4 separate regions of the Homo sapiens genome follow, and all the other regions are linked to region 1. Evidence: fine-mapped expression QTL. A gene starts in region 1. Each other region holds a variant in brackets. All regions are shown on one strand. Distances are from middle to middle. Region 1 holds the start of ERCC6 (ERCC excision repair 6, chromatin remodeling factor). Region 2 overlaps ERCC6 (ERCC excision repair 6, chromatin remodeling factor). Region 3 overlaps ERCC6 (ERCC excision repair 6, chromatin remodeling factor). Region 4 has its middle 22 kb from the start of ERCC6.

Evidence for each region. PIP is the estimated chance that this variant, and not a neighbour inherited with it, causes the effect.
Region 2: its variant is the best candidate, but not a certain one, in a credible set for the expression of ERCC6 in spleen (GTEx, PIP 0.66).
Region 3: its variant is the best candidate, but not a certain one, in a credible set for the expression of ERCC6 in sigmoid colon (GTEx, PIP 0.53).
Region 4: its variant is the best candidate, but not a certain one, in a credible set for the expression of ERCC6 in T cells (TOPMed, PIP 0.76).

What each region holds. Positions count from the first base shown.
Region 1 is chr10:49,534,836-49,543,096 of GRCh38, reverse strand. ERCC6 (ERCC excision repair 6, chromatin remodeling factor) reads left to right here and starts at 3,976. Exons shown (of 21, transcript NM_000124.4): 1 at 3,976-4,135. RefSeq lists enhancers at 3,294-3,533, 3,564-3,623, 6,866-6,925, 6,956-7,005, 8,164-8,261 and silencers at 4,044-4,333, 5,279-5,467.
Region 2 is chr10:49,461,744-49,470,004 of GRCh38, reverse strand. The region is part of intron 18 of ERCC6 (ERCC excision repair 6, chromatin remodeling factor); the gene reads left to right. Among named protein-coding and RNA genes, the nearest start is that of PGBD3, 58 kb to the left of the region's middle. The variant G/A (reference allele first, on the strand shown) is at 4,673.
Region 3 is chr10:49,449,460-49,457,720 of GRCh38, reverse strand. ERCC6 (ERCC excision repair 6, chromatin remodeling factor) reads left to right here. Exons shown (of 21, transcript NM_000124.4): 21 at 1-3,251. Among named protein-coding and RNA genes, the nearest start is that of DRGX, 58 kb to the right of the region's middle. The variant T/AT (reference allele first, on the strand shown) is at 3,585.
Region 4 is chr10:49,557,420-49,565,680 of GRCh38, reverse strand. No RefSeq gene overlaps it. Among named protein-coding and RNA genes, the nearest start is that of ERCC6, 22 kb to the right of the region's middle. The variant A/C (reference allele first, on the strand shown) is at 5,131.

The DNA of each region.
Region 1 (8,261 bases):
ATTTATAATTTTTACAAAGTATTTATTGTGTTTCCAATACATCTAATTATTTTTCATGAGTTTTCCCCATTTATAAGGATCAGAGAACCAAACCGGTTTTGTTGCACTGCCGTTACCCAGAAGTTTTGAAAAGTGAGAGTCAACTCAGACCTCTGTTCTGTAGGTCATTGGGAGAATTCCTTATATTGAACACGAAATGTGAAATAAAGGCGCAAGGATGAATATCGTCATAGTTAAACAAGTTAACATTAGTAAAGCACTCAAGACAATGAAACCACCTTTGCAAAAATTATATCAGTTAGAAAATTATGACAGTGAAAGAGGTCTGAGTTAACGCCCCCATTCCAACACCTATCTTGCCTTTCCCTTAATTATTTCTAAGCTACTGGGGCCAGCTAACTTTGAGAGACATTTAGGCTATAGTTTACATGATAACAGACCTTGCCTGAAACTCAACTGTTTTTGTAAAGCTAATGGGAAGCTATCAGGCTGTGGGGGAGGAGAGGAGCCTGAGTCCTGCTAAGGCGCAGATATGAACGATTGTCAGTCATTATTCTGGAGGTTATAAGATACTCAACTTTCCCAATTACTCCTGCAAATAACACCACTGATATGGTTTGGCTGTGTCCCCACCCAAATCTCATCCTGAATTGTAGTTTCCATAATCCCTACATGTTGTGGGAGGAAGCCGGTGGGAGATAACTGAATCGTGAGGGTGGTTACCTCCATGCTGTTCTGATAGTGAGTTCTCACGAGATCTGATGGTTTTATAAGGGGCTTTCCCCCTCCTTCACTCTGCACTTCTCCTTGCTGCCACCATGTGAAGTAGGACATGTTTGCTCCCCCTGTCACCATGATTGTAAGTTTCCAGAGGCCTCCCCAGCCATGCTTAACTGTGAGTCAATTAAACCTCTTTCCTTTATAAATTACCCAGTCTTGGGTATGTCTTTATTAGCAGCACGAGAGCAGACTAATACAACCACTATTTGTAGCTTTTTGAGATATCTTTCCAGGTTTTTTGCATGTCTGACACCCATGGCTCCACCTGGACCGCCAACCCCACTCCCACAGCCCCACCCAGAAGTGATTCAGACTGCAGGAGGACAGCTTTGACTCCCCCTATGATTTCATCTCAGCCTCAACCAATCAGCAGCAAGCACCTGTTACCTGGCCACTCCCACCCCTTCCTCCAAACTGCGTTTGAAAAACCCCCAGCCTATGAGCTTCGGACTTTGGATCAGATGACCTGAGCATGCACTCCATCTCCCACCTGGCATGGTCGGCCTCGTGTCTATTAAGCTCTTTTTCTACCACAATGCTATGGTCTTTCTTTATGCAGTGGGCAGGAAGAACCCCTTGGGTGGGGTGTTTAAAATAATGCCCAGCTTAGAGTAAGGGCTAGGAAATGGTAGGGAAAATGGATTAAAATCCAAATCAATAACTACTATAATAATGACATTAGAAATATTGGTTTGGGGGTACACAGGAGATGCAAGAGCCTATTGCTGTCAGAGGGTAGGGGAAAGCTTCAGAAAAGAGAAACTTTGTCTGAGTTTGGAATGGGTAAGAGAATTCTAAGCAGAGGGACCTGCTTGTAAGATCACAGAAGTGACAGAATAACAAGTAGGGGTATGTGGGAAAAGATTAATAATTGCCTCTCCCCCAAAGTTCCAGTTTATAGTTTGTCCATTTCTGTGGTATAAATACTCCTACTATGGCTGATTTCAAGCTATTAATGTGAAGTCAACAAAGGCAGAGTTGGTGCTATGGGCTAAACTGGGTGCCCCCCAAATTCATATGCTGAATCCCTAACCCTCAATGTGACTATTTGGAGACAGGGTCTTTAGGCAGCAAATCTGGTTAAATGAGATCATAAGGGTGAGTCCCTAATCCAATACGGCTGATGCCTTAGAAGAAAGGGAAGACAGAGCCCTCTCTCTACCCCATGTAAGGACACAGTGAGAAGGTAACCATTTGCAAGCCATGAGGAGAGCTTCCCCTAAATGAGCTAAATCTGCCTGCATTTGATCTTGGACTTCCCAGCCTCCAGAACTATGAGAAACAAATGCCTGTTGTTTAAGCTGCCCAGTCTATGGCATTTGTTATGGCAGCCTGAGCTAAGGCAGCTGGGAAGAGGTGAACAGTATGCTTGCTAGGCCGTAGAAGCCAATTGTAGCACACCCTTCCTGGGAGAAGAGTAAGTAGTTCCCTAAATCCTGAGCATAGGCATCCAGGGAGTGAAGGACACAAGTGATGCAGAAAAATTAGATGGGGCAGGAGTATAAAAGGGCTTGGACGACTTGCTAAATAACTTGGGACCTCATTTAACTAAATTCCCTCATTAAAGACCCTATCTTCAAATACAGTCACATTCTGAGGTCCCGGGGTGGGGGTGGGGAGTGGCGGTTAGGACTCCAGCATATGAATTTTGGGGAGGGGACACAATTCGGCCCTTAATAGCTCCAGTTGTGCCACCCTGAGTTGTTTTCCTGAACCCCGCCCACGTCTTTGTAAATAATAACTCTCAACTTCCCCTTTTGAGTGGACCATTTTTTCCTGTCCAAATTCTGATATAGGAAGGGTCTCCAAAATAGCTGCAAAGGGAACCTCAGTCTCAAAAGTTGGGATCCACTATATATCTGCTTTTACTTTCAAGCATTGAAACTAATGTCAATCAACTGCCTTTCTATTCTTAATATTTTATCCAAGAAATCGCTAGAATTCTTTCTCCTTTAAAAAAAAAAAAAAGCAAGTTACAAGCCGGGCGTGGTGGCTCACACCTGTAATCCCAGAACTCTAGGAGGCCGAGGCGGGTGGATCACCTGAGGTCAGGAGTTCGCGGACAGCTTGGCTAACATGACGAAACCCCGTCTCTACTAAAAACACAAAAATTAGCTGGGCATGGTGGCAGGCGCCTGTAATCCCAGCTACCCGGCAGGCTGAGGCAGGAGAATCGCTTGAACCTGGGAGGAGGAGGTTGCAGTGAGCCCACATCGTGCCATTGTACTCCATCCTGGGCGACAAGAGCAAAACTCCGTCTCAAAAACAAAAACAAAAACAAAACAAACAAAAAAACCCACTACCACCAACAAAAACAAGTTACATTGTGGGTTGGGGCCGCTGACAGGAGGAATAAGATGATGTTATGGAGCATTTCCTAGTCCCCTTTCCGACCCCATTTCCCTATTGTCCGACTTCAGGCTTCCAAGTGAGGACAGCACTTCCCAGGCAGTGACCCGCAGTCACTGCCCTCCCAGAGGACGTCCTGCCTCGCGGCCCTGGAAAGTCCACCTTCTCCTAGCACCGATCCTGAGCTGAGAAGCTCTGTCTGGTACAGCCATCCTGCATCGTGGGCTGCTTCTTTCCCCAGGCGAAGCTCAACTTCCTCCCATTGTTCTGAACCTCTGTGTGGACATCTTCTTTCTTCAAACGCACCACGGTAAAATTCTCGCCTGCCTCGAAACCCCGCCTACCTCTGAGATCTGAGGACGGATACTAAACGCTGGACTTAAGGCAATGTACACATGTAAGCAGGCTCTGTAGGCACTCACTCCGCCCAGGTGCGCGCGTGGCGGAGGGGGAACAGAGAAGCAGGACAGCTCTCCATCCTTCCCGTGTTCAGTCGTGGGAGACAACAAGAGAGGTCACAGCCTGGCGACCAAAAAGTGCGGCTAACTTCCCTGCCCAAGCTGACTTTCTCTGCAGGGTTCAAGGTTAATTGTGAGGATTTACATTCGCATGGCACACCCGCATCCCCCTCTACGTGGAAATATGTCTTAACTTTCATAACTGCCTTGCCAGCAGGGTATTTTTCGCTAGGGGCGAAGCGTCCTTCGCAAGCCACCCAGCTGACCGGCAGCGGAGACAGCTTTCTCGCCCTGCTCGCACGCAAGTAGAAAGGCGCTGCTGAGCCCGTCCCTCCAAACCACGTGGTCTTGCCCGTGCTTAAAAACAAACGCTGAGCCAGGCGCATGCGCCACGGGCCTCCCCGCACCAGCAGAAGTCGGAGTCGCTGTTGGGGGCGGTGTCTATGGTTGAGCTGAGGGCGCAGGCGCCACGGCCCGTCGAGCTGGGTTCCAAGGCGGCTGGCGGCGGTAGCGTCTCTGTTTCCTTGTGGGCGCTCGCGCGGCCCTGGGTGAGTGTTCGGGGGTCCCGGCCGAATGTCGGGCAGGGGGTGTCGGGGCCCAGCTCAGGCTTCTCGGGCGGGCCGCGGCCCCGCGCCTTGGCCTCGCCGTGGTGATTGAGCCTGTCAGCGAGGACGCACTGTAGCGGGTCTTAGGGCCAAGTGCCCGCTTCCGGCGGCCTCACCTGAGACCGGAAGTAGCGCCAAGGAGCGCTCACCTGAGGCGGCTTGAGTCCCTGGCCGGCCAGCGACCCAGCTACTTCTCCGACTTTGTATAAGGCCCCCTGCGCGCAGGGTCAGCTGGGTCCTTTTTGATCTCGATTAAAATGCTGGAGCTGTTATTTTAAAGAGAGTCGGGCTAGATGTACGTCCGACGTTTTGGGCGTTGATAGAGTCAAATTGATAAGAGTGTGGGCGGATGAGGCAGGCCGCCTGTAAATGCTGCTGTTACGTGACTTCCACGCAGCGTCTTAACTGCTGTCATCCTGTGACAGGCAGCCCTCGCTTTTCTCCTCAACTTTTCCCATCATCTTCTTGTTGCTTTGTCTCCTCCAATCCATTATCCGCACAGTTGTCCAGGTGGTCTCTGGCATAAAGTAGGTCATGCCATCATCAGCCTACTTAACAGTTTTCAGAGTCATTCCATTGCACTGGGAGTGGAATCCATGCTCGTGTTTTCCCAGGCCTTGTGTGATTTGGCCCTTGCCTGTCCCCTCTCAGAACTGTGCCTGTGTCCGACCAACCCTCCAAATGAGACCCAGCTTGCCCCTGGCTGCGGGAGCCCCAGTGATGGGGGAGGACGGTGAAGATACTAGTGTCCCAGATGATTAAGCCTTAGAAGATACTCTGCAAGACTTAGGCCATGAACGGAGCCCTTCTCTGCTCTTCTTAACTCAAAGTTAAAAATAAAGTCAAAAATTCGGTGTTCCAGCCTTCTTGCATTTTCACAAGTGCATCAGCTCTTTCTAGTCTTAAAAGTTACGCACGTTGTTGGGAGGCCGAGGTGGGTGGATCACCCGAGGTCAGGAGTTCGAGACCAGCCTTACCAACGTGGTGAAACCCTGTCTTTACTAAATACGAAAAATTAGCCGGGCATGATGGCATATGCCTGTAATCCCAGCTAATCGGGAGGCCAAGGCAGGAGAATCGCTTGAACCCGGAAGGCGGAGGTTGCAGTGAGCCTGGCGGAGCCTGGCGGAGGTTGCACTCCAGCCTGGGCAACCGGAGCGAAATTCCGTCTCAAAAAAAAAAAAAATTTCACACGTTGTTTCCTTGCAAGACGTTCACTTTACTTTCGACCTGACTGACTTATCAGATGTCACTTTATCAGAGAGGCCTCCTTGACCCCACATCTACCTCCACAATTTCAATTTGGTTTCTCTCATTTTGTCAGAAAGCCTTGTACTTTCCTCTTAACAGCAGTCACCACAATTATATTTGTGTGTGTGTGTGTGTGTGTGTGTGTATGTGTATATATATATATATAGTTTTTAAATGTCTGTTTTTCCCATGAGACTCTAAGCTCTTTGGGGACAGGAATTAGTTAACCTAGTACATTGCCTGGTGTAATTAACTCTCAGTAACTATTTGTTAAATGTATGATTTCTTTCTTTCTTTTTTTTTTTTTTTTTGAGACGGAGTCTTGCCCTGTCGCCCAGGCTGGAGTGCAGTGGTGCGATCTCGCTCACTGCGGCCTCCGCCTCCTGGGTTCAAGCGATTCTCCTGCCCCAGCCTCTCGAGTAGCTGGGATTACAGGCGCGCGCCTCCATGCCCAGCTAATTTTTGCATTTTTAGTAGAGACGGGGTTTCACTATGTTGGTCAGGCTGGTCTCGAACTTCTGACCTCGTGATCCTCCCGCCTCGGCCTCCCAAAGTGCTGGGATTACAGGCATGAGCCACCGCTCCCGGCAAATGTATGATTTATTTCACTTCTGAAATTCTTTAACCTGATAAGAGCCTTCTGGTTTCCAACTCTCACTTCCAGAAGACTTGGTTTTCTGGCCATTGCCAGATACTAAGTGACTTCTTGAACCCTTTCTCCCATTTCCAGGCCCCTTCTGTTTTTTTGTTTGTTTGTTTTTGTTTTTTTAAACCTACCCAGCTTGGACCCTGAAGTCAGTTGCTTCAGCTACTCTTCTCAGCATCTTCAACCCCGTGACTCTTTTGCGCTACCATTTCTGCTCTGAAAACCCTCAATAGTGACATTTCCCCCAGGACTACTGAAGGAGGAGATTGTTCAGCCCTGGAGATTGTTAGCAGTCTATGGCTTTGCAGGGCTGGGGAGATCCTCAGGTAGGTCCTCCACAGCAATCATCAGTGTTTGTTCCCTGTCAACTCCCTTTTCTCTTGTACAGGACATTTATTCCAGACTCTTAGTCTTTAGCCCCAGTGCCAACTTTGTCTCCTGACTCAGGAACTGCCCAACTTGCTGCTTTGTGGGATATTTTGTCTGTAATCCACTTCAGCTTCCCTCCTTTCCACCTGCAAATTTAGATCTATCAGGAATCCTCCTTCTGCCAGAGTCCGAGAAAGATGTGTTGTGCCTCCTGTTCATTTCTGCTTGCGACCTTCCACTTTTGCTGTCTCTTTTGGTACACCTTTCTGGGTTATCTCCTCTGTCTCCCTCCAGCCATTACGTGCTCTAGTTTTTCTTGCCCTAGTTCTCTCCCTACCCCCAACAAATCCATTATTACTTTATCACTGTAGCTGTCTCCCTGCCAGAGGCAAGCTCTTTAAAGGACAGGCCACTCTCTTGTGGCCTCCATTTCCTCATCCACTCCTTACACACCAACTACATTTCAACCACTACAGTCTGGTTTTTGGCCCTATCGCTCCACTGAAACTTTTTTATTTTTTCGAGACAGAGTTTCACTCTTGTTGCCCAGGCTGGAGTTCTGCGGTGTGATCTCAGCTCACTGCAACCTCTGCCTCCTGGGTTCAAGCGATTCTCGTGCCTCAGCCTCCCGAGTAGCTGGGATTACAGGCATGCACCACCACGCCTGGCTAATTTTTGTATTTTAGTAGAGATGGGGTTTCACCATGTTGGGTCAGGCTGGTCACGAACTCAGGTGATCCACCCGCCTTGGCCTCCCAAAGTGCTGGGATTACAGGTGTGAGCCACCAAGCCTGGCCTGAAACTTCTTTTACCAAGGTAAATGGTGACCCATTGGTATCCAAATTCACTCAGCCTTTTCTCATTCACTGGACGCTCTTCCTCCTTTTTTATTATTAGAAGTTTTCCCCAAACTTCTTTATTTTTAACCTTGTCTTTACACTACAATACTATTGCTTTTTGATATTATTTTACAGAAATAGAAAAATGGTTACTTAATATTTTTGGTTGAATTGGCATCCTTTTTTCTTAAAAAGAAATCCTCATGTGTGTACAAATAAGAAAAATGAAAACAGAATTGTTAACTGCCAGCTAGTACAGACACTCTGAGCTGGAATCCTGCTCTCTCTGTTGGAAAGTGAGGTGAGCTGAGCCTTCCTCTTGAAAATAATCAGCAGGCCCCAAAAGAAGGAACTTTCTCACTGTGTTGTTCACTTTTTAACCTTTCCAATGTTAGCCTCCTCGTACCCTCCAAAATGACCTTAGGTACCTGTCAGAGCCTTGGGAACCCTGGAACTGCTCACTCTGCTGATGTGTCCACATGTCACCCAGACTTTCCCTTGAGCTCAGATTTGCATTTCTGACTGCATGCTGCAAATGGTACTGATTACATGTAAGCTGCTTGCCAGTCCTGCTTCCTATCTGCTTCCTTTTTGAGAGTCTCATTTTTGTGACTGAATTCACTGGTGACTCATTTGTCCAGACCAAACTTTTTATTATTTTAGACTTAGCTCTGAACCTCACTTCCTTTCAGCAGATATTGAGCACCTCCTATATATCAGACCATGCATGGCCCATGTGTTCAAATCTCAGTTCCTCCGTGATATTTCTTGGGCCCCAGACACCATATATAGTTCGCTCGATGCTCGTGTGACCTCTTGTCCGTGTCCCGGGCTAGCTGACCTGCCCTGCTCTGTTGTTAACTGACATGCTGCTGCTCCAGTGGATAGCCACTCGGGTGTAGATGATGCTGAATTCTTTGTATCCCGGTGCTTTATTGCTGGGCTTATTTTACTTAATAAGGGA
Region 2 (8,261 bases), 73 kb after region 1:
TTCTGAAGACCTAGAATAATTTGAAACTTTGGAAAACAATAGTACTTATGGCCACTCATGGGAGGTGTGCAATTCTTAAATCGATGTGTACTACCTGAACATTAGTAGGCAGTTACTTTACATGCTATATGCTACATTAATCTGATTTTCCAACCACAGGAGATTAAAGTAACATCATAAGGGAGAGGGACAAGCGTGTGGCTAGAGACAGACATTCTAGAAGTATGAAAGCTGATAGCTTATGTCAAGGGAGAAAAGTTAGGAGATGTAGACTCAACAATTGCTCAAGACCATGGAGTATATAGATAGCCCTGCTTAGTGATCCCTTAGCAGTCACTGTGTTCACAATGTGATGGCCTTGAGTTACCAAAGATTGCTGCTTATGGTACTCAGTTTAAGAAGGCAGGTTTATGTGTAGCATTTCAGAAAGACTTTTATTTAGCATGGTTAATTTTTTTGTTAATTTCATATTTTGAAGTAATTTCAAACTTAAATCAGTTGGGTCTCAAAAAAAAATCAGTTGGAATAATACGAAGAACTCTCCTATATCCTTTATCTAAGTTATTAACATTTTTCAGCTTTTGCTTTATCATTCACACACACACCCATCTATGCATACATTTTTTTTTTGGTAGGAATGCCACAGAGGTGATACCGTATCTTACTCAGTGCATCTATCAGGAGACACATGCTGGTTTGACCTATTACAAGTTGATTTTTAAGATCACTTGGTTAAGGTGGAGTCTGCCAGGTTTCTCAATGCTAAGGTTAATATTTTTACCTTTGTAATTAATTTGTGCTTTCAAGGAATATGCTTTGAGACTGTGTAAATATCCTGTTTCTCATCAAACTTTTATCCACTAGTTTTAATATCTATTGATGATTCTTTCCTCAGTCAGTTATTACTACAATGGTTGCCAAATGGTGATTAACATTCTATTGTAAGGAAGGTTTTCCTTCTCTCTTATTTATTTATTAATTTATTTTTAGATCAGTGTGGACTAATGGATTCTTTTTTTTTCCATGACTGTAATCCATTAGTAGGGGTATTATGATGCTCGTATTGTCTTAGATTTGCCTCATGGGTGGGAGCTCCTTCAAGCTGGCTCCTTTGTCCCTCTGGTATGTCCCCACCATTCTTTGAGCACCTCCTTTCTTCTTGGCATACTAATATATGCTGAGCTCAATTTGTATTCTGTGCCAGCCCTGGAATCAGCCATTTCTTCAAGGAACCCTGGAGAATGGTATTTAGGAACTAGGATCCGGGTTCTCAGAGTGTTCATTGCTGCTATTATGTCATTGCTTTCGTAGCCAATAGTATCAGGAAATAGATGTATGTATGTGTGTGTATGTGTTTGTTGTGTACATACATATACACATACATACGTGCATATATATGCACAACAAATTGCACAGATACACCTGTCTCTATGTCTGTGAAAACCATGAATTTGGCTTCCAGCAAAGGCAGATTAACATTTACCCTTCCATGTGAAACAATGAAAACAATGACAAAACATATGAAGCAATGGTTTTCAGACACCAAAGGGCAGTGATCTCTTGAGAGATGGGAAACAAATGAACTGAGCTCTCCAGTTGCCCTGCCCTACTGCCTTGAGAGAATTTTCGTGCTGTAACAGAAAGAGGGAGAACCCAGATGGGAGTCCAGGCAGACCCTCTGTTGAAAAGGCAGAGCTGAGCATCAGGGGAGGCCAGGGTGGCTGGCATTCACATGCAAGAGACGATAGCGGAGACAGCTCTGCACAGGGAGAGAACCCCACAGGTCTGCAGAGTCTCCACTGGCACTCAGCTGAATACTGACCAGCACATTGTGCAAGAAAACTACTTAAGGTCAGTGAAAAGGCCTTTCCTCTTTAACTTTTCGAATTAGAGGAAACATGTCTGGTGCTCACCCATGGCCAGGGATAGTGCCTGTTCCCACCAGCTAAGACTGGAAAAATATTTCATGGGGCATTGGGTATGATACAGAGTAGGGGGTCTTGCCTCTGTAGTAGGGAATGATCAGCCTTAGAGTGAGCACTGCTTCAGCCCTACCTGAGTGTTTACAGGAATATACAAATACCCAACATCCAACAAGATGAAATTCACAATGTCTGGAACCCAATAAAAAATTACTGGCTGGGTGTGGTGGCTCAGCCTGTAATCCCAGTGCTTTGAGAGGCTGAGGTGGGTTGATTGCTTGAGCCTAGGAGTTCAAAACCAGCCTGGGCAACATAGTGAGATCCTATCTCTACAAAAAATAAAAAAAAAAATAGCCGGGTGTGGTAGCATACACCTGTGGTCCCAGCTACTTGCGAGGCTGAGCTGGGAGGATTGCTCGAGCCTGGGAGGTTGAGGCTGTGGTGAGCTGTGATCATGCCACTGCACTCCAGCCTGGGCAGCAGAGCGAGACCCCATGTCAAAAAATAATAAAATGTATAACCCAATTTTTTAAATGGACAAATAATTTGAACAGACTTCACCAAGAAAGATATGTAGATGGCAAATAAATATATGAAACTTGTTAATATTATTAGTTATTAGGGAAATGCCAATTAGAACCATAACGAGATACCACTATACACCCTCTAGAATGGCTAAAATGAAAGAAGACTGACCATACTAAGTGTTGGTAAAGATGTGAAGCAGTTGGGTCTCATACACGCCTGGTGGGAATGTAAAATGGCACAATCACTTTGGAAAACAGTTTGGCAGTTGCATGCGCTTTCCTTGTGATATAGCTTTTTCAGTCCTGGGTGTGTATTTGCCCAAGAGAAATGGAAAAATATGTCCATACGAAGGCTTGTACATGAATATTCGTAGCAGCTTTATTAGTAATAGCCAAAAATGTAGAAATCAAATGTCTACCAACAAGTAAATAGTTAAACTAACCATGGCATATCCATATGATCAAATACTAGTCGACAGGTGGGGCTTGGCTCACGCCTGTAATCCCAGCACTTTGGGAGGCCGAGGTGGGTGAATCACCTGAGGTCAGGAGTTCGAGACCAACCTGGACAACATGGTGAAACTCCATCTCTACAAAAATACAAAAATTAGGCATGATGGTGGGTGTCTGGAATCCCAGCTACTTGGGAAGCTGAGCGGGAGAATCGCTTGAACCTGGGAAGTGGAGGTTGCAGTGAGCCGAGATCACACCATTGTACTCCTGCCTGTGCGACAGAGCAAGACTCCGTCTCAAAAAATATATATACTAATCAACAATAAAAGGAAGTAGAGTATTGATACATGCTACAGCATGGATGACTTTCGGACTAGTAAGATTAGTACATACTCTGATGCCGTTTGCATAAAATTCTAGAAAACACACAGTCATGACAGAAATTGGATTGGTTGTCTGGGCATGGGGTATTTGACGGTGGGATTACAAAGGGACATGAGTTTTGCAGGTGACGGCTATGTTCATTGTCTTGATTGTAGTGATAGTTTCATGGTATGTACATAATGTCACAACTTACCAAATACTGTACTTTAGCAGTTATTGCATATCAGTTACACTCTAATAAGCTCCAAAAAGCAAAATAAGATGAGGGAATACTGTTGTCTCCAATTTCATTTCAGCACCCTAGGGCCCTTTCCATGTTTGTAGCTTCCTTCTTCAAGACCTTCATTCACAACGTACTGAGTTACTTGTCAATCCTAGGATACATGGTAGCTTTTTACAATTTCTGACCTGAACTATGGCAAGAAACAGTTATACTAACTAGAATTCAATATTTGTTTTTATTTATACTAACTAAAGTTCAATATTTGTTTTTATTTCTTTTTGTCTTTAGTCTAAGTTTTTGGTCAAAACACTACTTGAGTCAAAAATAACTTAGTTCTTTTTTCTCACCCTTCATCATATTTTCAGTGTGTGCTATCAGTTTAAAATACAGTTAGGTTAATTTATTTGTTTGTATTCCACTTTAGGGTTTCCTCCCATCCTTGTTGACTCTATGTTATCTTCTGAGTAGTAACACATTAACATAGTAACAAAAGACAAAATATGCAAAAAGGAATACCAGAGTAGTGTCATCCCCCACCCTGTCCCCACCCCTTCCTTACCTTACCAGTCTCATGAGTTTCTGGCATTTCCTTCATGTGTTTCTGTGTTAGTCTGTTTTCACACTGCTGATAAAGACATACCAGAGACTGGGCAATTTACAAAAGAAAGAGGTTTAATTGACTTACAATTCCACATGACTGGGGAGGCTTTACAATCATGCAAGGAGGAGCAAGTAACATCTTTCATGGATAGCAGCAGGCAAAGAGCTTGTGCAGAGAAATTCCCATTTTTAAAACCATCAGATCTCATATAAGACTCATTCACTAGTACAAGAACAGCACAGGAAAGACCCAACCCCATAATTCAGTCACCTCCCACCAGATTCCTCCCATGACATGTGGGAATTGTGGGAGTTACAATTCAAGATGAGATTTGGCTGGGACATAGCCAAACCATATCTTTCCACCTCTGGCCCCTCCCATATCTCATATCTTCACATTTTAAAACCAATCATGCCTTCCCAACAGTCCCCTAAAGTCTCAACTCATTTCAGCATTAACTCAAAAGTCCACAGTCCAGAGTCTCATCCAAGACCAGGCAAGTCTCTTCTGCCTATGAGCCTGTAAAATCAAAAGCAAGTTAGTTACTTCCTAGATACAATAG[G/A]GTTACAGGCATTGGGTAAGTACAGCCATTCCAAATGGGAGAAATTGACCAAAACAAAGGGGCTATAGGCCCCACACAAGTCTGAAGTCCAGCAGGGCAGTCAAATCTTAAAGCTCCAAAATGATCTCCTTTGACTCCTTGTCTCGCATCCAGGTCACGCTGATGCAAGAGGTGGGTTCCTATGGTCTTGGGCAGCTCTGCCCCTTTGGCTTTGCAGGGTATAGCCCCCCTCCTGGCTGCTTTCATGGGTGGCATTGAGTGTCTGCAGCCTTTCCAGGTGCATGGTGCAAGCTGTCAGTGGATCTACTGTTCTGGGGTCTGGAGGACCGTGGCCCTCTTCTCATAGCTCCACTAGGTGGTGCCCCAGTAGGGACTCTGTGTGGGGACTCCAACCCAACATTTTCCTTCTGCACTGCCCTAGGAGAGATTCTCCATGAGAACCCTGCCCCTGCAGCAAACTTCTGCCTGGGCATCTAGGAGTTTCCATACATCTTTTGAAATCTAGGCAGAAGTTCCCAAACCTCAGTTATTGACTTCTGTGCACCCTCAGGCTCAACACTGTGTGGAAGCTCCCAAGGCTTGGGGCTTGCACCATCTGAAGCCACAGCCTGAGCTCTTTGTTGGCCCCTTTCAGCCACAGCTGGAGTGGCTGGGACACAGTACACCAAGTCCCCAGGCTGCACACAGCATGGGGACCATGGGCCAGGCCCGTGAAACCACTTTTTCCCCCTGGGCCTCTGGGCCTGTGATGGGAGGGGTTGCCATGAAGGTCTCTGATATGCCCTGCAGACATTTTCCTCATTGTCTTGGGGATTAACATTTGGCTCCTCGTTACGTAATGCAAATTTCTGCAGCCAGCTTGAATTTCTCTTGAGAAAATGGGGTTTTCTTTCCTATCACATTGTAAGGCTGCAAATTGTCCAAACTTTTATGCACTGCTTCCCTTATAAAACTGAATGCCTTTAACAACACCCATGTCACCTGTTGAATGCTTTGCTGCTTAGAAATTTCTTCCGCCAGATACCCTAAATCATCTCTCTCAAGTTCAAAGTTCCACAGATCTCTAGGGCAGGGGCAAAATGCCGCCTGTCTCTTTGCTAAAACATAACAAGAGTCACCTTTGCTCCAATTCCCAACAAGTTCCTCATCTCCGTCTGAGACCACCTCAGTTTGGACCTTACTGTTCATATCACTATCAACATTTTTGTCAAAGCTATTCAAGAAGTCTCTAGGAAGTTGCAAACCTTCCCACATTTTCCTCTCGTCTTCTGAGCCCTCCAAACTGTTCCCATCTCTACCTGTTACCCAGTTCCAAAGTTGCTTCCACATTTTGGGATATCTTTTCAGGAGCGCACCTCCCCACTGGTACCAGTTGCCTTTATTAGTGCATTTTTATGCTGCTGATAAAGACATTACCCAAGACTGGGCAATTTACAAAAGAAAGAGGTTTAATCAACTTACAGTTCTGTGTGGCTGTGGAGGCCTCACAGTCATGTCAGAAGGCAAGGAGGAGCAAGTCACATCTTACATGGACGGCAGCAGGCAAAGAGAGCTTATGCAGGAAAACTCCCATTTTTAAAACCATGAGATCTCATGAAACTCATTCACTCATGAGAACAGTGTAGGAAAGACGCATCTTCATAATTAATCACCTCCCACTGGGTTCCTCCCATGTCACGTGGGAATTGTGGGAGTTACAATTCAAGATGAGATTTGGGTGGGGACACAGCTGAACTATATGTTTCTTTTGTAGAAATAAGCAGGCACATGTATAATTTTATATTCCCTTATTCTCTTACACAAAAGGTTGTATACTATATTATCTTCTGTTCCTTTTTTTAAAAAAACTTCATATATCCTGACAGCCACTGCAGTATTAATTAACAGAGAGCTATTCCTCCTTTAGCAATTTTTATTGCTAGAGTGCTCTGCTATGTTGACCCAAAACCTGAAATCTAAAATGCTCTAAAATCCAAAACTTTTTGTGCACTGACATGATGCCAGATGTGGAAAATTCCACACCTGACTTCATGTGATGGGTCACAGTCAAAACACAATTAACACTTTGTTTCCTGCACAAAATTGATAAACGTATTATATTAAAATTACCTTCAGGCTATGTGTGTAAGGTGTATGTTAAAAATATATACATTTTGTGTTTAGACTTGGGGCCCATCCCCAAGATGTCTCATTAGGTATATGCAATTATTCCAAAATCTGAAAAAGGCAAAATCTGAAGCACTTCTGGTCCCAAGAATTTTGGGTAAGAGATATTCAACCTGTACCACAGTTTATCCACATATGAGGATTTAGATTTTTTATAGCTTCTTTTAGCCACAGTGCTGCACTAAATAATCCTGTGCTTATACAAGAGGAATTGCTAGATCAAAAGGTAAACACATATGTAAGTTTGTTTTGTTTGTTTGTTTGAATAATGCCCAACTCCCTTTTGTAAGGTTTAGATCAATTTGAATTGTCACGAGCAGTTGTTGCCCAGAGGCTTGTCAAGAGTGTGGTGTTACACTTTTAATTTTTCCCAATCTGATAGGTGAGAAAGGATATCTTAAGTTTTAATTTCCAGTTATTTTCTTTGAGTGAAATTGAACTTTTTATAGGACCATTTATATTTAAAAAATTTTTCTTTCTGTGAACTTGTCTGTTCATGTCTTTTGTCCATTTTCTAAATCAGGTTTTTGGTCCCTTTTTCCCCTTGGTTTTAAAGAGTTCTTTATATATTAGGGATGTTAGCTTTTCATTTTTCATATATGTTACAAGTATTTCCTCATTGGTTGTCCTTTATTATGATTTTTTTCCTATGAAACAGGTTTTTTTTTAAAAAAATTGTCAGTCTTTTATTAATTGGAATTGTAGTTCTAAGCCTTTTCTACATATAGATCATATGATAATTCGCCATGTTTTCTTGTACTACTTGTATGGTTTTGCTTTTTACATTCAGATTTCTGATCCATTTGGAGTATGAGGTGTGGATTTTATCTTGGTTCAAAGATAAAATGCCCCAACGTTTGTGCCCCAACGTTTGTAGCATCATTTATTTCAAATAAGTTTTTCTCAGTGATTAGAGATGCCTTTATCATGTAGTACATTTCCAAATGCAGTTCAATCTATTTCTATTTTCTGGTCAATCTCCTGTTGTGTCTCTTCTTTCCTCAGCACCAAACTGTTGTAATTGGAGCGTGTTTTATTGTCCAATAGGGTGTTACTTTGCCTTTTCAGTGTTTTCTGATCTGTTCATGAAGGTTTATTGTTCTGTATGAACTTTAGTGTCAGTTTGTCTAGCTTCATAAGAAAGGTTGACATTTTTATTGAGATTACATTAAACATATAAATTAACTCAGGGAAAATGGTTATTGAGTCATTCTACTCAAATGCAAGGGATGTCTTTCTGTTTGTTTAAGTCTGATAGTCTATCTTCCCAGGAGTGTTTTCATGTCTTCTCCATATAGGCTTTACACATTGCTTGGGTTTATTCCTAAGTGTTTGGTCTTTTCTGTTACTGTAAATAGAATTTTCCCACCATTATATTTTTAGCTGGCTATTGTTTGTAAATAGGAAGGTTATAGGTTTCTGT
Region 3 (8,261 bases), 85 kb after region 1:
GTTTTCCGAAATTCATCGTATTCCTGAAATTTCTTCTTAGCTGTCTTAGTGCAGTTTGTTTCTTGGATTTGTATTCTCTGGCATGCTCTTTTCCTCTCTCTCATTTTTCTGTAGTATGCCTGCCCTCCTACCCTGCTATTTCTTTACATCTCTCTCATGCTTAACATGGATAGCTGTGTCCAGATCTTCTGTCTGCTCATCCATGTGACTCAGAGAGGAGGGTTCTGGGCAGGGGGGCCTTGCCGGACTGCATGAGAGGACATGAGTTTTGCTTTCTCTGCTCTAATATTTTGCTTAAGCCAAGAATCCTTTTCTTAGAGATGTTCTATATGATTCCTGTCAGGATTTTCTAGTTTTTTTTGGATTATAGCTTGTTCATTTCTTTTGTTTTTAGTTTGGTTTATATATAATGAGGGAAGAAGATGATTACATTATTTTTGTCACTTTGCCATCATTGTTTAGAAGTCATAGAAAGAATTTTTAAATAGGCCAATAAGTCTTAAACTTGAGTACTTGGCTTAGAAGAAAGTCAAAACTCCTTCCTTTTTGACTAAGTGGTTTGTTTCTGGGGAGCTCTTAATTTCTATTTTTATAATCATTAGCCTATAAGGAAATTGTGTCTTCCTTGTTCTCAGGGTGATCTGCTGACCTTGTTCACTCATGAAGCATTTGGGTATCATACTTATAGTGTCTGAAACATAAACTGTATTGAGCTAGACAAGGTATAGCCTCCTCTTCAAGTAGCAAATACTATCAAAAGCTATAATGCAGTAGGAGCAAGGTGGTCCTTGTTCCAGTTTTTGTCTCAGTTCTGCTGCTGATGTACCATGATCTTGGGAAGGTGGTGTCTCAGTGTGGAGATCTGACACATTGTTACCGTGCCTCCTGGCTGGAGGGACTTGGAGAACAATGCAGTTAAGTAGAATGGTTTTAACAATACAGAGAAATTTATTCATTTAGATAAAAATCTGATTTTTAGAACTTTAAAAGCTTTGTACAGTGTAAATAGATTTAATGTATTTAACATGCTTTATCAGCACAAATAAAGGATTTTAAAATTTTGTCAAAAAATTAAATGTTAATACTATCACCATTAAAAATGTTCAAGCAATAGTCTGCCTCCCCACCCCCACACCATCTTGCACCTGTTCCACAGCTAAGTACAGCCCTAGGTTTGGTGTGTATTCTCCATGCATTTAGAGAATCACATGACACAGACTGCTGCTATAATGTCATTTTCCCATTCTTCCTTTACTAATAAAATTTTTGAGTTTTACCTGGACGTCTGGCTGCTCAGCTTAAGACTACTTCTCAGCCTCTCTTATAGTTAATTGTGGCCATATGACTAAGTTTTAAACTTCCCAATTGGCCCTTTAAAGAAGCAGGGTATGCACTCTCCTTGACATTCCCCTTTCTTGCTGGCTGGGAGGCCAATGGGAGCTTCAGTAGTGACCTGGCATCTCAAGAGATGGAAGTGATGTGTTGAGGAAGGAGAAGTTGGCCTGCCAGTCTTGAACTGCTCTCCTTTGACCTGTTATTTAAGAGTAAAATAAAATACTGACTTGCTTAAGCTACTGTCTTTTGAAGTCTATTATAGCAATTAGTTTGCTTTAAATATGTAATTTATATTAATGGCCTTATACCATCCTTATTTTGCAACTAACTTTTCATTTAATATTATATGCAAGACATTTCTATTCCTGTAAGTATAGCTCTGCCTGCACAGAATTGTTGGATTAATGATGTAGATTTTAAATGTCAGTGGATGTAGCAGAATTGCTTGCATCAATTCACCCTCCATAAAAGGACCCATTTCTCCAAACCCTTGCCAACAGTAAGTGGTATCAATATCGATAGGTTGTTTTGTTTTGTTTTAACCAGTCTCGTGATTGAAAGTACCTTGTTTTCACTTGAATTTCCCTGATTACGTACAAAATCAAACATTTCCATGTTTATTGGCCATTTGTAGATCTCTACCGTACATTGCCTATTAGTGTTATGTTGGCCTAGTTTTCCTGTGGGTTGTTTATCTTTTAGGATTGCTCCCCTAAACAAAAACAAAAAGGCAGTTATTCCAATGATCAACAAATATTCTTTTCTCCACCAGTTTAAAATGTCAGCTTTCAACTCATCACATGCTAAGTTGTCTATTTCTGTCCTGTGGATCCAGGTGTTGGTTCTACCAACCACACTCCTCACGCTGTCATTTGGTGCTTTGCATTGTGTTTTGCCATTCATGGGCAAGTTCCTTTTCCTTTCTCCCCCTCTTCAGTGTCTTATACTTGGGTGTTTTCTGTTCCAGCTGAATCAAGAATTAGTTTATTAAATTCCAGTAAAATTGTGGTGTTCTTTTGACTAGGATTGCATTTGTTTACACATTAATTTGAGAATAATAGACCTCTTTATAATTAATATAATGTTTCTGATTAGTGTTATGATAGGCCTCATTTTATTAAAGTCTTTTATATTCTTGGATGAAATTTTAATAACTTTCTTCATAAATGTCTTGCACATTTCATAATAGGCTTATTCCTAGGTGTTTTATAGATTTTTAGTTTTGGTTGTGAGTCTTTTAACTTACATAAAAATATGGAGAATTAGCATATTCACATATCTATTTTGTGATGTTTATCATACGGAAGTTTTAAAATATAGTAAATTCAGTCTTTCCATTTTTTTTTGTTTATTTAAGAACCATTCCCTAGCTAGGGTCATGAATACATTCTTATGAATTATTAATCCCATATGGATAGCTAGTTTCCCTAGCACCTTTAAAAAATAGTTTATTATTTTCCTCCTGATGTATAAGGCCACCTTTACCAATTTACATATAATGTACGGAAATGTTTCTTGGCTCTGCATTCTGTTAAATTGGTCCATTTATCTAACTTTGCTTAGTAACCCACTGTTTTTATCATTGTGGTATCATAATTGATTATCACAAATGGTAGAATGATTGTCCTCAAAGTCTTTTCTGGTATATATTGATATAATTGTATAGCTTTTCTTGGTGTAGTAAAGTACACAGTTAAATTTTCTAACATTGAAATATCTTTTAGATTTTCACTTCCAGAATGGCAATGTGAAGGGCCCTGTGGACCCACTGTCCTAGGAATTAGCTATAACTAGTGAAAATTGTAACAAAAAATAAACACCTTCCTCTCATACAGAGAGACACAAACACTTAATGCCACTGGAAATTGTCCTAAAAGCATGTAGAATAAAGTAACGCTTATTCAAGAAAATCCAAATCTTGGTAAGAACAGTGAGTCAGACATTTCAGCCACAACACACTCACTCCCTCCCTCCCATTTCAGTGGGTGCAGCCAAGAAAACAGAGCTCCGTCTCCCTCAGCTCCCTGTCCAGAGGTATGGTACCTCACAGGGAGGGGCAAGATGCCAGCATTTCTTATCCCCTCCAGCTTCAAGTGGCAAGAGCTAAATTCATGAAGTTAAAAACTATAATAAGGAAAAAATGCACTAAAGGGGTTCAATAGTAGATTTGAACTGGCAGAAGAAATTGTCAGCCAACTGGCAGATAGAATAAGAGAGATATGCTTTCCAAAGAACAGAGAGAAAAAAAA[T/AT]GAAAAATGAGCAAAACCTCAGAGAAATGTGAAGCACCATTATGTGCACCATTAAGTATGCATGTAATGGGAGTACAAGAAGAGCAGAAGAAAAAGGAAATATTTAAAGATACAATGACTGAAAACTCTCCAAATTGATTGAAAAACATCTAGGAAGCTTAGTGAACTTCCAGCATGATAAATGCAGAGGGATTCACAGACACATCATAGTCAAAAATGCTGAAATCAAAGATGAGAAAACCTTGAAAGTAGTGAGTGAAAAAAAGATACATCACTTAGAGAACAAAATTAATACTTGACTTCTCAAAAGAAATAATGGAGGCCAGAAGGCAGGTATAACAGTCAAAGTGCTTGAAGAAAAAAAAACTGTCAACCAAGAATCCTATATCCAGCAAATGTATTATTCAAAAATATAAGTGAAATACTTTCCCAGATAAACAAAAACAGAAAAATTGTTGTTAACCAACCTGCCTAATAAGAAGTATTAAATGAAGTTCTTTAGGCTGAAAGCAAGAGAAGAGCACCAGTAAAAGCAATTATATAATTATAAAAGTCACATAAATGCATATTTTTCTCCTCTTAACTGATTAAAATGCAACTGTATCAAATAATACGTATATGATGTATTGGTCTATAACATACAGAAATGTCATATATGTAACATTTGTCAAAACAGCACAAAGGAGGTGGCTGGGAGCAAAGCTGTAGTAGACTAATTAAATGATGGCAGATGGTAAAGTAATAATTATAACAATGTGTTGGATTTGTAACATTAATAGATACCATATGTATACCTAAAATATCACAAAAAGGGGGAAAGGGAATATAGCTATATAAGAGTAAAGCTTCTATATATTATTGGAGTTAAGCTTGTGTAATTCTAACAGATTCTGATAAGATGTATATGGTAAACACTAGAGCAACCACTAATAAAATAACTCCAGAAATATAGTTGAAAAATCATTAATCAAATTAAAATACTACCTTAGAAAATACTCGATGCAAAAGGCAATATTAAAAGAGAATGAAAAGAACACAATGGATACTAGAAAACAAAAAGTAATGTGTATTCAACTTATCAATAATAAATGTTAATGAATTTAATCAGGCAGAGACTATCAGATTGGATTAAAAATACATTCCAACTCTATGTTATCTATGCTCCCATAGATAACACACTTTAGGCTCAAAGACACAGATAGATTAAAAGGATACAAAAAGAAATAGTGCAAACAATTGCCATAAGAAAGCTGGACTGGCTATACTAGTGTCAGACAAAGTAGACTTTAAGACAAAAATGCTCCTAGAGATAGAGACATTTTATAATGATAAAAAGGTTAACCCATCAAAAAGATATAACAGTTGTAAACATATGTATGAACTTAACAGTATCAAAACACAGAAAGCAAAAACTGACAGAAATGGAAGAAGAAAATGGTCACAATAATAATTGGAGACTCCATAACCTATTTTCAGTAATGGACAAAACTAGACACAAGGTTAACAATGAAATAGAAAACTTGACCAACGCTGTAAACCAACTAGCCCTAACAGACATCTATAGAACACTTCACCCAAGCGCTACAGCATATACATTATCAAATGCTCATAGAACATTCTTCAGGATAGGCCTTATGCTAGACCATGAAACTTCAATACGTTTAAAAGGATAGAAATAATGCAAAGTGCATTTTGTGAACATAATCACAGGATTAAATTAGAAATAAAAAATGGGAACATTTGAAGAACTCACAATTAGGAAATTGAACAACACACTACTAAATGACCAATAGACCAAAGAAGAAAACAAGAAGGTAATCAGCACTTTGAGGCTAATGAAAATTAAGACACAAGTAAACTGTACGGATGCAGCTAAAAAAGTGCTTAGAGGAAATTTATAGGTGTAAATGCCTGTATTAAGGAAGAAATAAAGCAATAACCTTTCTTCCACCTTAAGTCACTGAAGAAAGAAGAACAAACTAAACCTAAAGCAAGCAGAAGGAAGGAAATAATAAAATTAGAGTAGAAATTAATGAAAGAATAGAAAAACAATAGAGAAAATATTACTAGAAACTGGTAATTTGAAAAGATCAATAAATATGACAAATATTTCACTAGGTTGACCAATAAAAAGGCAATACTCAAATTACTAGGATCTGATATGAAAGAGTAGACACTACTACCAACCTTACAGAAATGGGCAATCTGAATAGACCTATAACTAGTGAACAGATTAAACCAGGAATCAGAAAATTGCCCACAAAGAATAGTCCAGGCACAGACAGTTTTACCACTGTGTTCTACCAAACAATCAAATAAATTATAGCAATTATTCTCAAACTCTTTCAAGAAATAGGAGGGAGTACTTCCCAGTATTGCCCTGATAACAAAACTGCTCAAAGATATTACAAGAAAACTGCAGACCAATATGTCTTATGAAATACCTGCAAAAATCCTCAACTAAATGCTGCAAACCAAATCCAGCAACATATAAAAATAATTATGCACCATCACCAAGTAGGATTTATCCCAGGGATATAAGATTGGCTTAACATGTGAAAATCAATGTAATACATTATATCAATATAATAAAAAAGTCATCTCTACTGATGCAAAAATAGCTGCATTTGAATAAATCCAACACCCTTTCATCATAAAAATGTTTGAAAAACGAGGAACGGAAGGAAACTACCTTAACCTGATAAAGAACATCTATGAAAAATCTACAGCTTTCTTTATACTTAATGGTGAAAAACTGAATGCTTTCCCACTGAGATTAGAAATAAGACAAGGATGCCCATTATCACACTTCTATTTAACATTGTACTGGAGGGTCTAAGCCATTGCAATTATGCAAGAAGAAAATAAAGGTTGGAAAGGAAGAAGAAAGACTGTTCACAAATGACATGATCTTGTATGTAGAAGATTCTAGGGAATCCACCAAAAAAAAAAAAAAAAACTATTGAAACTAATAAGTGAGTTCAGCAAGATGGGAGGATACAACATCAGTATTTAAAAATCAGTTGGGCCGGGCATGGTGGCTCACGCCTGTAATCCCAGCACTTTGGGAGGCCGAGGCAGGTGGATCATGAGGTCAGGAGATCAAGACCATCCTGGCTAACACGGTGAAACCCTGTCTCCACTAAAAATACAAAAAATTAGCCAGGCGTGGTGGCGGGTGCCTGTAGTCCCAGCTACTTGGGAGGCTGAGGCAGGAGAATGGCATGAACCTGGGAGGCGGAGCTTGCAGTGAGCCAAGATTGTGCCACCGCACTCCAGCCTGGGTGACAAAGCGAGACTCCATCTCAAAAAAAAAAAAATCGTATTTCTACACACTTGCAATGAATAATCAAAAATGAAATTAAGAATATTCATAATAGCATCAAAAAGAATAAGGTGCTTAATAACATATTTAACAAAAAGTGCAAAACTTACACTCTGAAAACTACAAAACATTGCAGAAAGTAATTAAAGAAGACCTAAATAAATGGAAAAACATGCCATGTTCATGGATCAGAAGAGTTAATGCTGTTAAGATGACAATATTCCTCAAACTTGTCTGCAGATTCAGCATAATCCCTGTCAGAATCTCTGCTGACATCTTTGCAGAAATTGACAAGCTGATGCTAAGAGTTATATGAAATTTCAAGGGACCCAGAATAGCCAAAGAAATCCTGAAAAAGAATAAAGTAGAAAAACCCACATTTCTTCATTTTGAATTACAAAACAATAGTAATTAAGAAGTGTGTTACTGGCACAAGGGTAGACATAGATCATTGTATTTTTTTAAAAAATGGTGATTCCAGAAATAAATGCAAACATCTGTAGTCAACTGATTTTCAGTAAAGGTGCCAAGTCCATTCAGTGGGGAAAGAACAGTCTTTTCAACAAATGGTGCTGGGACAAGTGGATAGTCACGTGCAAAAGAATGAAGTTGGACACTTACCTTACATTATATTTAAAAAGTTGGCTGGGTATGACGGCCCATGCCTGTAGTCTTAGCACTTTGGGAGGCAAAGGGGCAGATTGCTTGAGTCCAGGAGTTTCAGACCAGCCTGGGCAACATGGCAAAGTCATGTCTCTACAGAAAAAACAAGTTAGCTGGTCATGGTCATGTGCATCTGTAGTCCCAGCTACTCAGGAGGCTATGGTGAGAGGATCACTTGAGCCCAGGAGGTCAAGGTTGTAGTGATCCATGAGCATGCCACTGTACTCCAGCCTGGGTGACAGAGCAAGACCCTATCTCAAAAAAAAGAAAAAAGAAAACAAGTTAAAATAGATGAAAGAGGCCAGGCGCGGTGGCTCACGCCTGTAATCCTAACACTTTGGGAGGCTGAGGTGGGCAGATCATAAGGTCAGGAGTTTGAGAGCAGCCTGGTCAATATGGTGAAACCCTGTCTCTACTAAAAATACAAAAATTAGCTGGGCGTGGTGGCGTGCACCTGTAGTCCCAGCTACTTGGGAGGCTGAGGCAGAAGGATCACTTGAACCCAGGAGCCGAGATTGTGCCACTGCGTTCCAGCCTGGGTGACAGAGTGAGACTCTGTCTCAAAAAAAAAAAAAAAAAAAAAAAAAAGACCTAACTATCAAAGCAAAACCTATAAAACTCTTAGAAGAAAATGGGTAAATCTTCATGAACTTGGGCTTGGCAAGCATTCTAAGATATGACATTAAAAA
Region 4 (8,261 bases), 23 kb before region 1:
CCCGTATAAGAATGTTAGTGATTTTTGTACATTAATTTTGTATCCTGAGGCTTGCTGAAGTTGTTTTATCAGCTTAAGAAGCTTTTGGGCTGAGAATATGGGGTTTTCTAGATATAGAATCATGTTGTCTGGAAACAGGTCTAGCTTGGATTCATCTCTTTCAGTTTGGATGCCCTTTATTTTTTTCTCTTACCCTACTGCCCTGGCCAGGACTTCCAATACTATGTTGAATAGGAGTAGTGAGAGAGAGCATCCTTGTTTTGTACTGGTTTTCAAGGGGAATGCTTCCAGCTTTTGCCCATTCAGTATGATGTTGGCTATGGGTTTGTCATAAATGGCTCATTATTTTGAGGTATATTCCTTCAAAGAGGCCAGGGTCTTTACTCTCTGTGCAAGTTTGCCTCATGTTGCAGCTTCTATCAGGAAGTCCTCTCCATGAGGCTCTTCTTCCTAGCTGCAGCCCCACTGTGACTTCTCTGCCATTCAGTGACCCTTGGCCATGTCCTCTCCTACAAGGTCTGCATCTCAGCCTGAGGGACCTCTTCTCTGGCAACTTCATCTCAGCCCTAGGGGTGGTAGCTGCTCTTTATAGCTGCCATTCTGATGTTATTTCAAGTTCTCTTGACTTTTTACCAGAGAATCCTTCATCACGCTCATCCTCTGATATATTAATAATTTTTTATGTTGAATTTTTTCCTGATAAAATTACTGTCTGGTTTTGTTCTTCTGACTGGATTCTCACTGGTACAGAATGGATATCAGGAGTTATCCCAGGAGAAAGGCCACACAGGCAGAAATTTGCATTGGTTTGGTCAGGCCCTTGGGCTTAAGTGCAGTTCTGAGCTCCTTGCCAATGGGCAGTGGAATGCTAGAAACCCATGGCATGTGGCGGTGCCACACTGAATCAAGCTGTCACCTATGGCTGATTGTGATGAAGAACGAGCAGAAGCAAGACTCTTGGGAACCCCAGTGCCACTGCACTGCACTGCGATGGCAGTAATGATGACTATGAGGACTGCAATGTGAGGCAGATTTTCTTCTTAAGCACACTTGGGTACTTACAAAGAGAAAATGGGAAGCACAGTTCTGTTTACTCTCAGCTTGAGTCACAGTCTGAAAACTGGAGAGCCCTAAAAAAATCTCTTATTTTTGGTAGCTGGACTGATAATGCTGAAAATAAAACACCAACTTAATTTTTTGCCGAATTGCACTGGAAATTTAGAACATTGATTGGTAAAGAATGGGATTCTGAAACTTTGAATGGGAGCTTCTGGTTGAACCCAGAAGAAACTGACAATCTTAGACCTCCAAGTCGCTCTGATATTCCTTTACCCATGGAAGGAGCCTGCCCTCCGGTGTCTGAGAATAATAGCCTTCCTTTTCTTTGAGAATCTTGTGATAAGCTCACCTGAGGCAGATGCTTTGAAAGGGGATGCCCTTTCTCCTCAAGACCCAATCAAACCATATGCACATAGACCCATAACTAGTGTCAAATCTCAGCATGCTCCAGAGAACAGGTAGACACAGTGACCCAAAAAGAAGTAGCTTACACACAGAAAGAATAAGGTTTTGTTAATGTATATTGTCAGAAGCCTAGGATGCATGTGTGGAAGTGCATTCTAAGGGCGTTACACCAAGGAGGGTGGAATCTAACACTAGATCAGCCCTGATTGTGAATATGGGTGCTCTTATTGGACATTCTGGATTTAGTGTGTTTGCTCATGCAGCTGAAGGTGATTCTAATGGCTTACCTGGTTGGTTGACTAAAACTTGGACAAAATAGTGGCCAATATGATTCGATAAATGGACTCCAAAGGCTATGGAGATAGGAGTGTTGGGCTGGATTTATCATTTGCAAATGTGTATCTACCCCCAACCTATGTTCCAGCAGGAGGCCCAGAAGACACTCCCTTGACTAAGGCATTGAGAAATGCATTAGTGAGCAAAGCATCTGCACCCTTGGTCAGCTCTGCAGTGGATTTCTTCTGCAGGGCAGATATGACTGTAGGGGATGTTGCATTGAGATGGGCTCTGGTTTCAATAAGGTTGAAATCCCAGAGGATCATAGGCCAAGAGGCAGCACCTAACTGCCAGAGGCACATTCACTGTAAAGGGCAGCAGGGCTATGCAGGCAGTCAGAATGCCTTGACCCACAGAGATATTTGGCAGTGGTCAATTGATATGGCATTCCCAGGAATCAAATAGATGGACAGCTCACTACATTGTTTGATCTGTATAACAGGAAAAACTCTAGGTCTGGTAGCTAAAAGTCTGGCTTGAGTCACAGCTTCTCACCCCATTTCTAGATCTAAGGCAATTTATGTACTTAGCGTGTCCCTTGAATAAAGAAGCCCCTTGAGGAGGGACCCTGCATCACTATTGCAAATTTCCACTGTAAATCTTACTTTAAGTCTTCTCCAAAGCGACCTGTAGCTGTTTATTAGAGTGACTGCATTTGGGAGAAGAGAACTCCCAGACTTTTCCAAGATTATGACATTGGCTCTGAGTTGACACTGATTATTGAGGAGCCAAAATACCACAGTGGCTCACCAGTCAGAGTGGGGGTTTATGGTGTCAGGGGATGGAATCTTAGCCCAGGTCTGACTCACAGTGGGCCCTGTGGTCTACAGACCAAGTCTGCAGTTATTTCCTCAGTTCATTTTTTGTTTTGTTTTGTTTTTGAGACAGGGTCTTGCTCTGTTATTCAGACTGGAGGGTAGTGGTGGGATTGATCACAGCTCACTGCAGCCTTGACCTCCCTGGGCTCAAGTGATCCTCCCACCTCAGCCTCCTGAGTGGCTGGGACTACAGGCATGTGCCACCCTGCCCAGCTAAAGTTTTGTATTTTTTGTAGAGATGGGGTTTCACCATGTTGCCCAGGCTGGTCTCAAACTCCTGGGCTGAGGCAGTCTCGGCCTCCCAAAATGCCTGGATTATAGGCACGAGCCACTACATGAAGCCCTCAGTTCTTGAATGTATAACGGTGATAGACACACTTGGCAACTATGTGGCCTCTCTGATCTATGAGATGAAGATAATTATGATTGGAATGCCTAAGAACTAACTAACTTCTAGTAAACCAGAAGCCATATTATATCCTTGGGAGAATTGCAGAGATTGATGTCACTATAAAAGACTTAAGAAGAGTAGGGGTAATGATAGTTGTCACATCCCTATCTAATACATCAGTGAGGCCTGTGTAGAAGTCAGAAGAATCTGGAGAATGACTGTGGATTGCTGTAAACTTAAATGGTGACTCCAATTTCAGCTGCTGTCCCAAATGTATAGCTTTACTAGAAAAAGTGTTCCTAGTACTTGGTATGCAGCTGTCGACCTAGCTGATACCCTTTTCTCAACACTTATTTATGAGGACCACCAGCAAATCAGTTTGCTTTTCACCTGTCAGGCTCAGCTATGCTCCTTCACACTCTTGCCTCAGAGCTAGTCAATTCTGCTGCTGTCTGCCACATTACAGTTCACAGAGGTCTGGATAATCTTGACATCTGATGAAACATCACAGTAGCCCACTGCATTGATAACATTGTGCTGATGAGATCTGAGGAGCAGGAAGTAGCAAGTTCTTTTGATGCCTTAGTAACATATATGCAAATTAGAGGGGGGAGATAAAACCATTTGGGGTACCAATTCAGTATCAGTCAAGGCTCACTCAGGAGAGAGAAACCACACAATAATTAGAATGCAGGGAGTTTAATATAAATAATTATTAACTATAACAGAGGAATGGAGAGATCGGGCAGTAAAAACTAAAGAGAATGCTAAAGAACACAGTGGTAGCAGATACAAGGAACAGCCTGTACTTCTGGGGCTGACATAGAACGCTCGAGATAATAGTTCCTTAAAGCTGGGAGATCGTGTGTGATTGCAGGGGGACCTTCTTTCTGAGGACCTGGCCTCTCTTTCAGTCAATGGGTTTCAGGTCCCAAAAGTGTCTCAGGGCCAAAAACTGGGCAAAAGTTTATGTTAGAGCTTGACATTTGTGTCTTCTACCCGCAAAGCCATATGTTGAAGCCCTAACCCAAATGTGATGGTATTCGGAAACGGGATCTTTGGAAGGTAATTAGCATTAGATGGGGTCATGAGGGTGGAGCTGTCATGATGAGATTAGTGCCCTTATAATAAGAAATACCATAGAGCTTCTTACTTTCTCCCCGACTCATGCAAAAAGAGTTCATGTGAACACATAGTGAGAGGTGGCAGCCTGCAAGCCAAGAGAAGAGAAGTCAGAATAAAACCCACCTTGCTAGCACCATGATCTTGGACTTCCAAGCCTTCAGAACTGTGAGAAATACATTTCTGTTGTTTAATCTACCTGGTCTACAGTACTCCATCATGGCAGACCACACTATGACTAAGACAAATTTTGACTTTTATTGAGGTGGCTTTCCTCAGCCTTCTGCCCATCATCCTAACTTTCTTTTGATTGTATAGATTGAGCAATGCCTTCACTGACTTCCCTCCTCTCTTGTTCTTAGGAATTCAATATTCTATTGCCTCATGTCCATACCTTTCTGCAAGTCAGTTCACCTGTCCACACTATCAGCTTCTGTTGGTATATGGTGGCTAGGTCTTAAATTTCCTTTTCTTTCTTGGTCAACTCAGTACTCATAGCCAGGATATATGTTGTGCTTTCACACTAGTTCTTGGTCTGGTGATTAGGAGAGAGGGTAGGGGGAGATCCTGAGGAGGTCTATATTATGTAGCAAGGCAGATGCCTCCCCCTATTTTTAAGCAAAGGAGAATTCTAGCCTTTAATAAAGAGGAGTGGGCCACTTCTGAAGACCCAGAGAGTTCAGGGGGCAAAGTTCTTAAATGCATCGACCCAGATGTCCCTGTCCCTCACAGTCTCACTCCTTCCCATCTCAGGCTTTGGTCTTGGAACTGCAGACTTGCTGGGGGTGAGAATTCAACTTCCTTAGAATTCTACTACTTTTAGAGTGAGTCAACTCCCAGGCCTGATCTCAGCTTTTTTTCTGCAAGAGATGAGAATCTCTTTATGTTGCCAAGAAGGCTCTCTGACTTTCACACTATGCCTTTAATTGATAATCAATCACTCTGAAGTCTTTCTTCGATGTATCAATGGCACTCAGTAAGGGTCAACCAGTTTGGCTT[A/C]ATAATTACTTTATGGTGCCTGAATCATTGTGCCTGCATTATCCCTTCACTGCTGTTCATGGCCCATTTCATGCTGTTCAAGTTTATGGCATGTGTGTTAATAGTTGCCCTGCTTCTTCATGCTCGGGACTCTTGACTCCACCTGTCCCAGTTATGGGATCCTCAGTGTCAACCAGTGGGCGATACAACCTTGAAATCCCATTTTAGAGTCTACTTTCTTGAACTACTCCTGGCCTCATTTGTTTTAGGTCATGTTCCCTGGGAAACAGACTCTCAGGCAGAGGAAGTTCATTGGGAAGTGCTTTTGGTAACAGTACAGTGTGGAAGGGAGGGAAGCTGGACCAGGCAGAGGGAGAAAGTTCCACTGGAATGCAGTTACAAGAAAGGCAGAGGCGGGGGCTGGGAAATCCTGCAGGTCATCTTGTGCGAAAAGAAAATAAAAGTGTCGGGACCCCAGACTCACTATGTCAAAGGGAAAAGTTAGGCTTGGGAACTGAGTCACGCAAAACTGCCTCCCATTTCCTAAATGGATAGCTGCAAAGATAGAAGCCACACACATCCCCAGGGGCCTCCTCAAAATTCGCTTACAAGGAAATTCCTGTGGGCCGAAGATCTTTACCCTAAAACCGACTTCTGTTGAATTTCACTCTGACAATTTAATCAACAGCCTATCTTCACAGGTACAGGACAGACAGGACTTGTGTTTGTCCCTCTGCCCACCTGAGACAAAGGCATATATGACTGCATTTTTTACTCTATATTTCCTTTATTTTATGTAAAAAATGCAGATTCACTGAGCACAAGACCAGTGCATAGTTGACTGTTCCTCTACCCCCTCTTTTCACATGTGCAATGTGGATTCTGTGAACGCTGACCAAAGCCTGGCAAGAATGCAACCATTTGGCTCTTTTATCTACCCTCCCCTTTTTCTCTTTCCTCTGTCTGCTCATTGCTCTTTCAATACTGAAGCCTCCAAACCCTCTTTGGAAAAAACATGGATCACAGATATTCCTGTGATTTTTGTTCCAATTCCCAGGCACATCCTCAACCTTGGTAAAATAAACTTCTGAATTGATTGAGACTGACTTCAGTCATTTTCTTTGATTTACATGAGGAATCCTCCCTACCATGCTACCTCTGTGTTCAGGTCAGGCCTGGACCCCTACCTTCATGGCCACCCAGCCCAGACATAACAGCAGGTGGGAGAGTCAGGAAACCCTGGTAAGGAACACTCTTGGGCTTCCTTGAGAGGGTGCGGGGGCACAGAATGGGGGATAGGAGCAGGCAGCCAGCTGGGTGGAGGATTTAGACTGGGCCCATGTGCCCAGACTGACAAGCTGCTCCAGGGGCCCTGACATGGCTTCTCGATATCTCCTAGGACTTGAATGAGAAGTGAGGGGTTGATGGGGACTGGGAACAGGAGCAGCAGTGGAAGAATACATTATCCAAAATCCTCTCAGCAGTTTTCCCGGCCATGTGTTGACATGAGCAGGGATCCTCTCAAACTCATCTGCCCAGTGCACCCATTTCTGTAACAAATATCTCTTAATACCTCCTAAACACACACATACACACACACACACACACACACACACACACACACACACACAAAGAGTTTTTCCAAAGTCAGTATAATGCCCTCACTGAATAAAAGGAAAGTAATTTATAATAAAAGAATATTGGCCAGGCGTGGTGGCTCACGCCTGTAATCCCAGTGCTTTGGGAGGCTGAGGCAGGTGGATCACGAGGTCAGGGGTTCGAGACCAGCCTGACCAACGTGGTGAAACCCCATCTCTACTAAAAATACAAAAATCAGCTGGGCAGGGTGGCAGGCACCCGTAATCCCAGCTACTTGGGAGGCTGAGGCAGGAGAATTGCTTGAACCCTGGAGGCGGAGGTTGCAGTGGGCCGAGATTGCGCCACTGCACTCCAGCCTGGGTGACAGAGTGAGACTCTGTCTCAAAAAAAAAAAAAAAAAAGAATATTCATTTCAACATGTAAATATTCGGGCAGGCCTGGCCTTGAAGACAAAGTGAATAGTAAGATGTTTGTACCTGTGTGTAGAGTCAACACGAGTGCGGCCATGTCTGCTATAACACATTGCATCAGTCTCGGATGCAGACTGTCACAGTGTGCTATACCAGAGACGTGAACACTAGGAGGGGTGTTTCCATCAGGGATGTGGTTTTAAAAGTGCTGCCAGTCCCAGCTTACCTCACTCCACACAGTAGTTGCATTTCTAGAAAAATGCCTTGCATAGAAAACTGTGCAAAAAGGACTTTATGTTACATGGAGTTCAGGTCTAGGCCTAAATAATCATAAAAACATTTCTCTCCTGCATGAATGTCTGGGAAAGCATTTGAAAGTCCTGTGGGATGTAAGACAACTCTTTCTGCATCTTACACATGGAGAATGTTAGAATTCCTTATCCCGTCCACTAAATGTCTATGGTGCTGCCCCATCCGTGTGTCCACTGTTCCCCTTCACAAAGACCATGACATTAAGAGGTGCCCAGAGAATGGGCATCCTGTGTGTGGCCCTGTCATCACTTTTGTTGGAAGGCCTAGAAAACAGAAACAGTTCCTGCAGAATTTATTAACAAGATACACCCAAATGGAGATTCCACCAACTTGCAAATTGCTATGGGTGGAGGAGCTCTCTACGGCCTCCTTTCTGCTGCCCTCACACTTCTGCTAAAGCACATCACTTGCTGGTGACACATTCATTATTTACTCATTTCAGGCTCAAGAGCAAAGCAGCCAGGCTGGTCTCCACTCACTCATTCATTTTAATTAAACTCTCTAATTTTATTTATGCTGCGACAAACTGATTAACAATTTGCCAGCAGAGAGTAGGAAATCTTAAAAAGCACCTTGAAGAATCTGTGGGTCTCAAAACACAAACCTCACAGAAATGAGGTGGGCTGTGGGTGGGGGCTCCTGCAGGCTGGAGGAAGCAAGTTGTTGAAGCTTCACCACTTCCTACAACCTTGGAACAGCTTCTGGCTCTGAGATCTGGGGCCACCAAGCTGATGGATGGAGAGGCTATCTCTTTGTCTGACATCCCTGAAGCTGTGGGAGAGGGGTTGGGGCTGGCATGGTATCCTGTGTCCCCGGAGGATGGAGATTGTG